Linked DNA regions of Homo sapiens: region 2 is linked to region 1. Evidence: fine-mapped expression QTL. A gene starts in region 1. The other region holds a variant in brackets. All regions are shown on one strand. Distances are from middle to middle.

What was found. PIP is the estimated chance that this variant, and not a neighbour inherited with it, causes the effect.
Region 2: its variant is the best candidate, but not a certain one, in a credible set for the expression of SLC41A2 in adrenal gland (GTEx, PIP 0.81).

The regions. Positions count from the first base shown.
Region 1 is chr12:104,955,539-104,960,927 of GRCh38, reverse strand. SLC41A2 (solute carrier family 41 member 2) reads left to right here and starts at 2,638. Exons shown (of 11, transcript NM_001352171.3): 1 at 2,638-2,840. RefSeq lists silencers at 2,460-2,729, 2,920-3,249.
Region 2 is chr12:104,806,422-104,811,810 of GRCh38, reverse strand. All of the region lies in intron 10 of SLC41A2 (solute carrier family 41 member 2), which reads left to right. Among named protein-coding and RNA genes, the nearest start is that of SLC41A2, 150 kb to the left of the region's middle. The variant G/A (reference allele first, on the strand shown) is at 3,019.

The DNA of each region.
Region 1 (5,389 bases):
TGTCACACATCCTCTGTTGCACCCTTCTTATTAATTCTCCACTCTGCAGCCGGAATAATCTCTTTTTTTTTTTTTTTTTTTTTTTTTTAAGAGACAATGTCTCACACTCTGCTGCCCAAGCTGGAATGCAGAGGCACGATCATAGCTCACTGCAGCCTCGAGCTCCTGGGCTCAGTCAGGTGCGTGCCACCAAGCCTGGCTAATTTTATTTTATTTTTGTAGAGATGGGGGTCTTGCAATGTTGCCCAGGCTGGTCTCAAACTCCTGGCCTCTAGTGATCCTCCCACCTCAGCCTCCCAATGTGCTGGGATTACAGGTGTGAGCCACTGCATCCAGGATCATCTTTTACAAATGCAATTTTTCATGTCCAGATAGGACCTTTTCAACTCTTCATTGGCTTCTTTTGTCTTTAGGATTAAATCCAAAGTCCTTAACCTGACCCTCAAGGGCCCGCCCACCTCTCCCTCCCAGGTAGCTCTCTCAGTCTAAGCACAGTGGCCTTTTCCCAAAGCCTTCACAGACAGAGCCTCTTCCTACCAAAGGGCCTTCAAACCTGCAGTTTCCACAGCTAAATGCACTGCCCACCCCACCCCCTTCTCTATGTTGCCTGCCCTAACTCCTCCTTATTCTTCAAGGCTGAGATTAAATGTCACTTCCTCCAGGAGATCTTTCTTACCCCCTAGCACAGACACGCTCCTTTGTTATACACTCTCATAACTCTCAGGCTTTTTTCCAGCAATCACAACAGCATCACCACACAGCCTCAAGTCCAAGCCACTTGCTTCACATTTGAAGTTGCCAGCTGTCAGACGGGAGATGAAGTAGAAATGGGATTGTTGTTGTCTGCACCCATTAGGACCCAGTTTTTTACAAGGGGGCATTTCCTCGCCCGATTCCAATGTGAGTTATTTTCAGGGCTGAAATTTGATTTAAATTTGGATTCCAACTTGAAGCTTAACATATCTCCAAAGTACACACTACTTTGCGGTACTGAATGAAGAATGTAAGTAGAAGGTTGCCTGCCACATGCCATGTAATGCTCTGAAGGACGGTAGAAACCACCAGCTCTCTCAGAAAAAAATGGTGGAAGAATTTTCAAAACCAAGACAGGCTGGCTTCTGTATATGCTTTGTGTAGAAATCTTGAAAGACTACACACTCAGGGGAGGAACACATATTGGGTGGAACTTCTGCCAAACTTTCAAGAGCAGCTACTTTCTAATGATCTGTAATTCAAAAAACAACCAGAACAAAAACCAGCTGGAAATGCAGTCAAAACACTGCTTTTCCATATTCCTTGCAATTATACTTTCATTTTTAGGTGGTGAGGAACACCAGGATGAGTCATTATAAAAAGCATGACTGCAGATGGCCAAGAGTGATACCGAAGCACCCTTCACCCTGAAGGTTAAGGTTAAAGCTCAAAGTCTGATCGCAAAGCATAAGGAAAAAAAAAAAGAACATGGATAAATGTATGCTGGTGTCCTTCAGCACCAGAAAAGCTGCTACTAAATCACTGGTGTGGCTTGGAATTGGTAGAAGCTTTGATTTGAGGAAAAGAGTATCATTAGCTGTGTAATTTTGAGTTGTTGTTTTAGAGACAAGGTCTCATTTTGTGGCCCAGACTGGAGTGCAGTGATGCGATCATAGCCCGCTGCAGCCTTGAACTCCTGGGCTCAGGCGATCCTCCCACCTCAGTCTCCTAGCCACTCCAGGTCTCGCTGTGTTTGCCCAGGCTGGTCTCAAATTCCTGGCCTCAAGCGATCCTCTCGCCTGGTCCTCCCGAAGTGTTGAGGTTACACGCATGAGCCACCAATCCTGGCATTATGGCATTAGCTGTGTAATTTTTAAAATAACTGTCTTCGGACCAACACCTTTCTTTTGTTCACTGGAGTATCCCTGGGGTGTGTCTCATTCCCTGAATCATACACAGTAGATGCTCAATAGTTTTGTAAATAAAATAAATGAGCTCTCGGATTTACATGCAGACTTTGGATCAGTTTGATCTAGGTTTAAAAGCAAGTGTGGGGAAACTTGAAAAGCCTGGCACCCCAGCCAACTCTTCAGCGCCCCATGCGCTTGGCGCCTACACCTGCCTGGCACGGGGAGGGTGCTATGGGGCTGCCCTAAACCTCACCCCCTCCTGCGGTGGTTCCTGCCCGTCTCGGCTCCTGCACCGCCCACACTATGCGCTGCTGGGCCGAAAGACACGTGGTTCGGTTTTAACTCCAGTCTGCAAGAAACATGACCTCAGCCAAAAAGAGGCCGCTGGTCTGAGAAGAGAAATCATGAGTCATGGATTCGGGGGTTCGGACCTTGGAGCAGGCGGTGAAGTGGGCGTGCGTGGGCTGGTGGGGAAGAGGGATGCCGAAGGAGGCCACAGCCCTTCTCTCCTGGGCAGGCTCCCCAGAAAACTGCCCCCTTGCCGTCATCCAGCGCCCCCGTTCCCGACAGCTGTCTGCCAGGGCGCGGCCGGGGTCCGGGCGGGGCGGTGCTGTCGCTCCGGGTCGCCGCCCCGCGGGCCACATCACCAAGGCCCGGGCTTCCCCGGCGGCGGCGCGGCTGCGCTTGCGCGGGGCTGCCGCGCGGGGGCGGGGCGGCGGGGAGTCAGGGGGCCGCGGGCGCCGACGGCCGGGCTGTCAGCTTGGGGCCGCAGCCGCGCGAGGAGGCGCGGGAGCAGGAAGGAGCTGTGGGCTGGGAGCCGCTGTCCTCCCCGCCACCACCGGTGCCGGGCACCAGGTGAATGCCCCTTCCATCCCCCGCCCCTGGTGTCTCGGTCTGGTCTGAGGAGACGGGGACCCTTCTCACACCGGCCGCTGCCGCCGCCGCGCTCCGGAACAGGTGACCATGGAGGGGAAGTCTCGGCTTCGGCCGCGGCGCCGCGTTCGGGCGCATCAGGTGCGGGAGGGAGGTGGGGCCGAGAGGCCTGGGCTCGGGACCCGGCGGCGGGGGCGCGGGGAGCAGAGGGAGCGGCCCCGCCCGAGCAGCCGTGCCCCCTGCGGACGCCTCTCCGGGCCGCCGGGCAGCGCCCGAGCCCAGGCCCCCGCGCCTGCCCCACCTCGGGCTGAGGGAAGCTGTTCCGCGGCCACCGCGGACAAGCGGTCCCGGGCGCCCAAGGCAGGGACAGGCGGCGGGTGGTGTATGAGTGATGGCTGAAGGTGAGCTGGGATGGAGATGCTGCGAGGCTGGCTCGGGCACACCCCAGATGCCTGTTCAGGGCTCCGCGAGTGCCCCGTCACCCTTTTCTTTCATTCTTCTCTTTATATACACGGAGCATATCTCAAATTTAAAAGCCCAAATGCTCATTTACAGAGAGAGATGACACATATCTATGTGTTACCGATATACATTGATGTGTATATTACGTATATATGTCATCTTTTTTTTGTAGTGACAATTTTTAAATTGAGATATACATCACATGCCATAAAACTCATTCTTCTAAAGTGTGGCTTTTAATATATTCACAGAGTTTTCCAAATATGACCACTATCCAGATCATCATCCCCAAAAGAAACCCTGTCTCTCTTAGTAATCACTCCTCATTTCCCCTTGACCCCACCCCACTAGCCACCACTAATCTACTTTCTGTTTATATGGGTTTGCCTGTTGTGGAAATCTCATATAAATGGAAGCGTACAATATGTGGCTTTTTGTGTCTGGCGTCGAAAGACATACTGTAATGTTTTCAAGTTTCACTCATGTAGTATGTATCAGTACTTTACTTTTTATAGCATATTAATATTGTTGTATCAGTGTACCACATTTGTTTATTCATCAGTTGATGTACATTTGGGTTGTTTCCAGTTTTTGGCCATTGTGTGTAATGCTGCTATGCACATTTGTTTACACGTTTTTGTGGACATGTGTTTTCAGTGCTCTTGGGTATATACCTAGGAGGGCAATTGCTCCGTGTTTCACTTTTTGAGGAACTGCCAAGCAAAGCAGCTGTACCATTTTACTTTCCCACTAAGCAGTGTATGAGGGTTCCGATTTCTTCACATCTTCCCCAAGGCTTGTTACTTTTTTACTGGTTATTTTTTATGATAGCCATCGTAGTGAGTGTGGAATGGTATCTCTTTGTGGTTTTGATTTGCATTTCTCTAATGATTGGGGATGCTGAGCATCTTTTCATGTGCTTATTGGCCATTCATATATTTTCTTTGGAGAAAATGTTCATATCTTTTACCCATATTTTAATTGGGTTGCTTGGCTTTTTATTTTTATTTATTTATTTATTTATTTATTTGGAGACTGACTCTCAGTCTGTCACCCAGGCTGGAGTGCAGTGGCACAATCTTGGCTCACTGCAACCTCCACCTCCGGGGTTCAAGCGATTCTCCTGCCTCAGCCTCCCAAGTAGCTGGGACTACAGGCACACACCACTATGCCCGGCTAATTTTTGTATTTTTAGTAGAGACGTGGTTTCACCATGTTGGCCAGGTTGGTCTCCAACTCCTGAATTCAAGTGATCTGCCCACCTCGGCTTCCCAAAGTGCTGGGATTACAGGCATAAGCCACCACGGCCAGTCTGGGTTGCTTAGCTTTTTATTGAGTTTTATTGTTCATTTATGGAAAAAAATTTCTGTTAATAGGTTTGGATACTGGCACTGACTTGAAAAAATCCAACCAATCTGATACCGAAAAACTTAATGCTTATTCTTGGGTAAAGGTTGAATAAGTGCCACTTCATTCTTTAAGAATACCCTACCTGTTCATTCTGGACATCTTACTGACCCCTTTACATTTACTGCCCTGGTATTTTGAGCAAAGCTACAGAAGGCATATTCCTGACTGGAGTCAAGAGAGACCACCCTTAATTGGTATTTTCATATATTCTATGCTCAATTTGAAAATCCCAGTTATCACTTTAATTACAAAAAATTTATATTAGTGGCCAGCTGAACAAACTAACAATAAATGGCAAGCACAAATCACTCAAAAATTTATGTTTAACTTCTCAGTAAAGTGGAGAATCTTGTTTTCTTAAGTTTGTGCAGTGTAGTTTTTATTACAATTATGTTCATGTGTGGGTGGTAAATAAATATTTTTGATGGCACTAAAGTTAAGAGCCACTTACAGCTAAATGAATGCTGCTGTGCTTATTTCATGGTTAATTTCCGAGCGCACACAAATTCAGCATCAGGTCTTTCATGGCCAAAAAAAAAAAAACCACTAAAAAGACCTGATGTTACCTCCCAGGAATTCAAACTCAATTTTCCACTGATCTAATATGATTGTTGTTAAAGAAAAAGATTATTCGATGATACTTGTTAAAATGTGGTAAAAAAAAGTCTATTCAGGACCATTGTGATAGGTAAAGGGACCATGGAATGGGATTTTGCAGTTTGGGAGGAAGACTAGGCTCAATTCTGAATACGGTGTGGGCA
Region 2 (5,389 bases), 150 kb after region 1:
GGACATACTGACTTCTTTTCTCATGTGTCCCTCTCAGTAGATATTCTAAGTTGTAGCTCATGCGGCCCTGGTCAGTGAGTTACCATTAACACAATGGTTTACATTTTTTAAAATTATGAAATATAAACATACAGGAAGTAATAGGAAATAAGATAACAATGTATTTACCACTCAGCTTTATCAATGATCCGAAGCAAATATTTCAAAATAAATAAAAATGCATCATATATATGGTTGGTAACTCCTGTTTATCCCTTCTTGTGCTCATTTCATCCCTCCCTAACAGTTATCAGCATTCTAAATTGGCATCTATTCTTGCCATTATACTAAACTATTTATTATACTATTGCTACAAATGTATATATCTATAAACAACATAGTTTTATACTTATACACTTTATTAAAATGATATGCATAGTCTTGTGCTTTTGAGATATATTCATGTTGATTTATATAGTTCATTTTCATTTATTTTTGCTTCTATATAGTGTTCAATTGTGTGACTTAACAGTGAATTTAGCCATTCTGTGTCAATAGATACAATTTTTTGCTCTTACAACAGACGTGGTGAATATTCTTGCACATCTCTCAGTATGCTTGTATAAGAATTTCTCTGTATGGTTTCCATAAGTACACCAAGATACTGGTCTTCTCAGTCCTTAGGGTAGCAACAGGAAGACCTAGAGTCAGCAGAGCCCCTGAGCTAGTATCCTTTGGCCATGAACAATTTTATTTTTCCCCAGTGGCACAGGAAAAAAAAATCATTATTTCTATGTAGGATTGCTGAACTAAGGAGATACACATTTTCACATTTAATAGATATTACCAAATTGTTCTCCAAAGTAGTTGTACCAGTTTACGCTCTCATCAATGTAAAGTTCTATTTTTACTAAAACAAGGTACTGTAGTGATGGTTGAGAGCATGGGCTTTAGTGTTGGACTCTGTGAATTTGAGCCTGACTCCACCTGCAAGCTGTGTGATCGTGGGCAGGTTTCTTGGACTTTGCCTTAGCTTTTTTTATATGTCAGAGGATTAGTGGACCATATGCTCTCTGTGACAACTACATAGCCACTTAACCTCTCCGACTCAATTTCTCCAAATGAACATTAGGAATAGTAAACCTACCTACTTCCTGAGAATGTGGCAAGGAATAATCGGCTAAATAGGCAATAAGTAAACAATGGGTTGAGTTGCGTTCCAATAAAACGTTATTTACAAAAATAGGTGGCAGACTGAATTTGGCCCATGGGCTGTAGTTTGCCAACCTTACTCTAGAAAAATCATTCAGGGCAAATATTATACAATAAATTACTAAATGGTGTATGTATCATATAATATATAAATCTGTGTATATAAGTATGTATTTAACACATTGTTAATATGTAAACATGTAATATTATAATATGTAATATAAATTTATTCATTTATTTTTCTTGCTAATCCCAGAGAAATTAGCTACCCTCATTCTTTTAAAAGCTATTGTTTCCTCCTGTATACATTACTTATTCAATCAGCAAATTTACCTCCATACAGAAGGTAAATTTACCTCCATATACTTCAGTAATTTTGAGTTTACTGCATAACTTGTTCTATTTATAGATAGCCAAATTTTTTTTAAGTTCTGCTTTTGGTCTTTTCTTCCTTAACCTAACACTCTACTCTCTGAAGCAACATATTATATACCTAGCGTCTGCTGACATGATAATCTTTGTCTTAAGTTCACATCTCCTACCCTCCTTGCCCAGGACAAACAATTCTTATTCTCATAGGAATCTCCTATATGACACTGTCTCAAGCTGATTTGCATTCCGTCAATCAGATGTTGTCTACTTTTTAAGTTAGTCACTTTGCTAGGTACTGAAGACGCAGGTGTGAACCAGTTTCTCTGAAAATAGGGCATCCAAAACAGAGCCTAGATGTGGCCTGGCTCACTGGGGGGGTCCCATGGGATGACTCTCTTTCTCTCAGTCTGTGCACTATGCTTTTAGTGATAGAACTTGACATCATGCTGCCTTTTTGCCTTTCCTTTCATCCCCCAAACCAAGGCTCTTATTATTTCGAAGTAAGTTTGGCAGATATTAGGCCCCATATTTTCTTCAAATGAGAATACTAGGCTCAGAGTGGTAAGAAATTTACCCAAAGGCAGAACTGAAAATCAAATCCAGATTTTACAACTTCCCACTCCAGGATTCTTTCTAATATTTCATGCTTCCTCCATACCCAAAACACATTGTCCTAGCAAAACTTTATATGATTCCAAAACAGTCTCTACCAGTGAAACACTAATGAAGAATTGACCACATGGAAAAGACAATAGGGCTTAAAGTACAACCTCTCTCTGACAGATGTCCAAAGGCATGTAAAATTCATGCCTTTGGAATAGGTACATGTCTTCCTACGTTTGGACAAGCCACTCTCCTTCCTGGTAAAGGTGTTAGAGCTAAAATGATAGCACACAGCAGTTTGGGTCCCAAGGCAAATGCCTCACACCCACGGCCTACTTGCCAGGTTAGTGAAAGGTCTCTTGGCCTAGACCGTGGACCTGGGGTGGGCTTCCTCCTGCACATACCAGGGGCCACAAATAGTAATAAGAATAATCCTGTTAAAATAGACTAATAACAGACATTTATTGAAAGTTTATTGTGTGCCAGGCACTGAATTATTTAGTATATTATTTAATCCTCAGAACATTCTTACAAGGTAAGTACCATTTTAATGTTCATTTGGATATATAGAGTCAGAAAGGTTGAGTAACTTGCCTTCAGTCAGCTAGTAGACAATAGAGAAGGGCTGTAAAGAAGTGCTTTTAACCACTGTGCTATACTTGCCAACTTGTCCAAAACCATGAACATTATCCTTTCTAGTCCCAAATTTATTTTGCTGCTTCAGGGGTTTGAAAATTTAAAAATCCCACAGAAATATGAACTACCATCAGAGAATACTATAAACACCTCTACGCAAATAAACTAGAAAATCTAGAAGAAATGGATAAATTCCTTGACACATACACCCTCCCA[G/A]GACTAAACCAGGAAGAAGTTGAATCTCTGAATAGACCAATAACAGGCTCTGAAATTGAGGCAATAATCAATAGCTTACCAACCAAAAAAAGTCCAGGACCAGATGGATTCACAGCCGAATTCCACCAGAGGTACAAGGAGGAGCTGGTACCATTCCTTCTGAAACTATTCCAATCAATAGAAAAAGAGGGAATCCTCCCTAACTCATTTTATGAGGCCAGCATCATCCTGATACCAAAGCTGGGCAGAGACACAACAAAAAAAGAGAATTTTAGACCAATATCCCTAATGAACATCGATGCAAAAATCCTCAGTAAAATACTGGCAAACCGAATCCAGCAGCACATCAAAAAGCTTATCCACCATGATCAAGTGGGCTTCATCCCTGGGATGCAAGGCTGGTTCAACATACACAAATCAATAAACATAATCCAGCATATAAACAGAACCAACGACAAAAACCACATGATTATCTCAATAGATGCAGAAAAGGCCTTTGACAAAATTCAACAATGCTTCCTGCTAAAAACTCTCAATAAATTAGGTATTGATGGGACATATCTCAAAATAATAAGAGCTATCTATGACAAACCCACAGCCAATATCATACTGAATGGGCAAAAACTGGAAGCATTCCCTTTGAAAACTGGCACAAGACAGGGATGTCCTCTCTCACCACTCCTATTCAACATAGTGTTGGAAGTTCTGGCCAGGGCAATCAGGCAGGAGAAGGAAATAAAGGGTATTTAATTAAGGAAAAGAGGAAGTCAAATTGTCCCTGTTTGCAGATGACATGATTGTATATCTAGAAAACCCCATCGTCTCAGCCCAAAATCTCCTTAAGCTGATAAGCAACTTCAGAAAAGTCTCAGGATACAAAATCAATGTGCAAAAATCACAAGCATTCTTATACACCAATAACAGACAAACAGAGAGCCAAATCATGAGTGAACTCCCATTCACAATTGCTTCAAAGAGAATAAAATACCTAGGAATCCAACTTATAAGGGACGTGAAGGACCTCTTCAAGGAGAACTACAAGCCACTGCTCAATGAAATAAAAGAGGATACAAACAAATAGAAGAACATTCCATGCTCATGGGCAGGAAGAATCAATATCATGAAAATGGCCATACTGCCCAAGGTAATTTATAGATTCAGTGCCATCCCCATCAAGCTACCAATGACTTTCTTCACAGAATTGGAAAAAACTACTTTAAAGTTCATATGGAACCAAAAAAGAGCCAGCATTGCCAAGTCAATCCTAAACCAAAAGAACAAAGCTGGAGGCATCACACTACCTGACTTCAAACTATACTACAAGGCTACAGTAACCAAAACAGCATGGTACTGTACCAAAACAGAGATATAGACCAATGGAACAGAACAGAGCCCTCAGAAATAATGCCACATATCTACAACTATCTGATCTTTGACAAACCTGACAAAAACAAGAAATGGGGAAAGGATTCCCTATTTAATAAATGGTGCTGGGAAAACTGGCTAGCCATATGTAGAAGGCTGAAACTGGATCCCTTCCTTACACCTTATACAAAAATTAATTCGAGATGGATTAAAGACTTAAATGTTAGACCTAAAACCATAAAAACCCTAGAAGAAAACCTAGGCAATACCATTCAGGACATTGGCATGGGCAAGGACTTCACGTCTAAAACACCAAAAGCAATGGCAACAAAAGCCAAAATTGACAAATGGGATCTAATTAAACTAAAGAGCTTCTGCACAGCAAAAGAAACTACCATCAGAGTGAACAAGCAACCTACAGAATGGGAGAAAATTTTTGCAATCTACTCATCTGACAAAGGGCTAATAACCAGAATTTACAATGAACTCAAACAAGTTTACAAGAAAAAAACAAACAACCCCATCAACAAGTGGGCAAAGGATATGAACAGACACTTCTCAAAAGAAGACATTTATGCAGCCAAAAGACACATGAAAAAATGCTCATCATCACTGGCCATCAGAGAAATGCAATTCAAAACCACAATGAGATAACATCTCACACCAGTTAGAATGGCAATCATTAAAAAGTCAGGAAACAACAGGTCCTGGAGAGGATGTGGAGAAATAGGAACACTTTTACACTGTTGGTGGGACTGTAAACTAGTTCAACCATTGTGGAAGTCAGTGTGGCGATTCCTCAGGGATCTAGAACTAGAAATACCATTTGACCCAGCCATCCCATTACTGGGTATATACCCAAAGGATTATAAATCATGCTGCTGTAAAGACACATGCACATGTATGTTTATTGCAGCACTAGTCACAATAACAAAGACTTGGAACCAACCCAAATGTCCAACAATGATAGACTGGATTAAGAAAATGTGGCACATATACACCATGG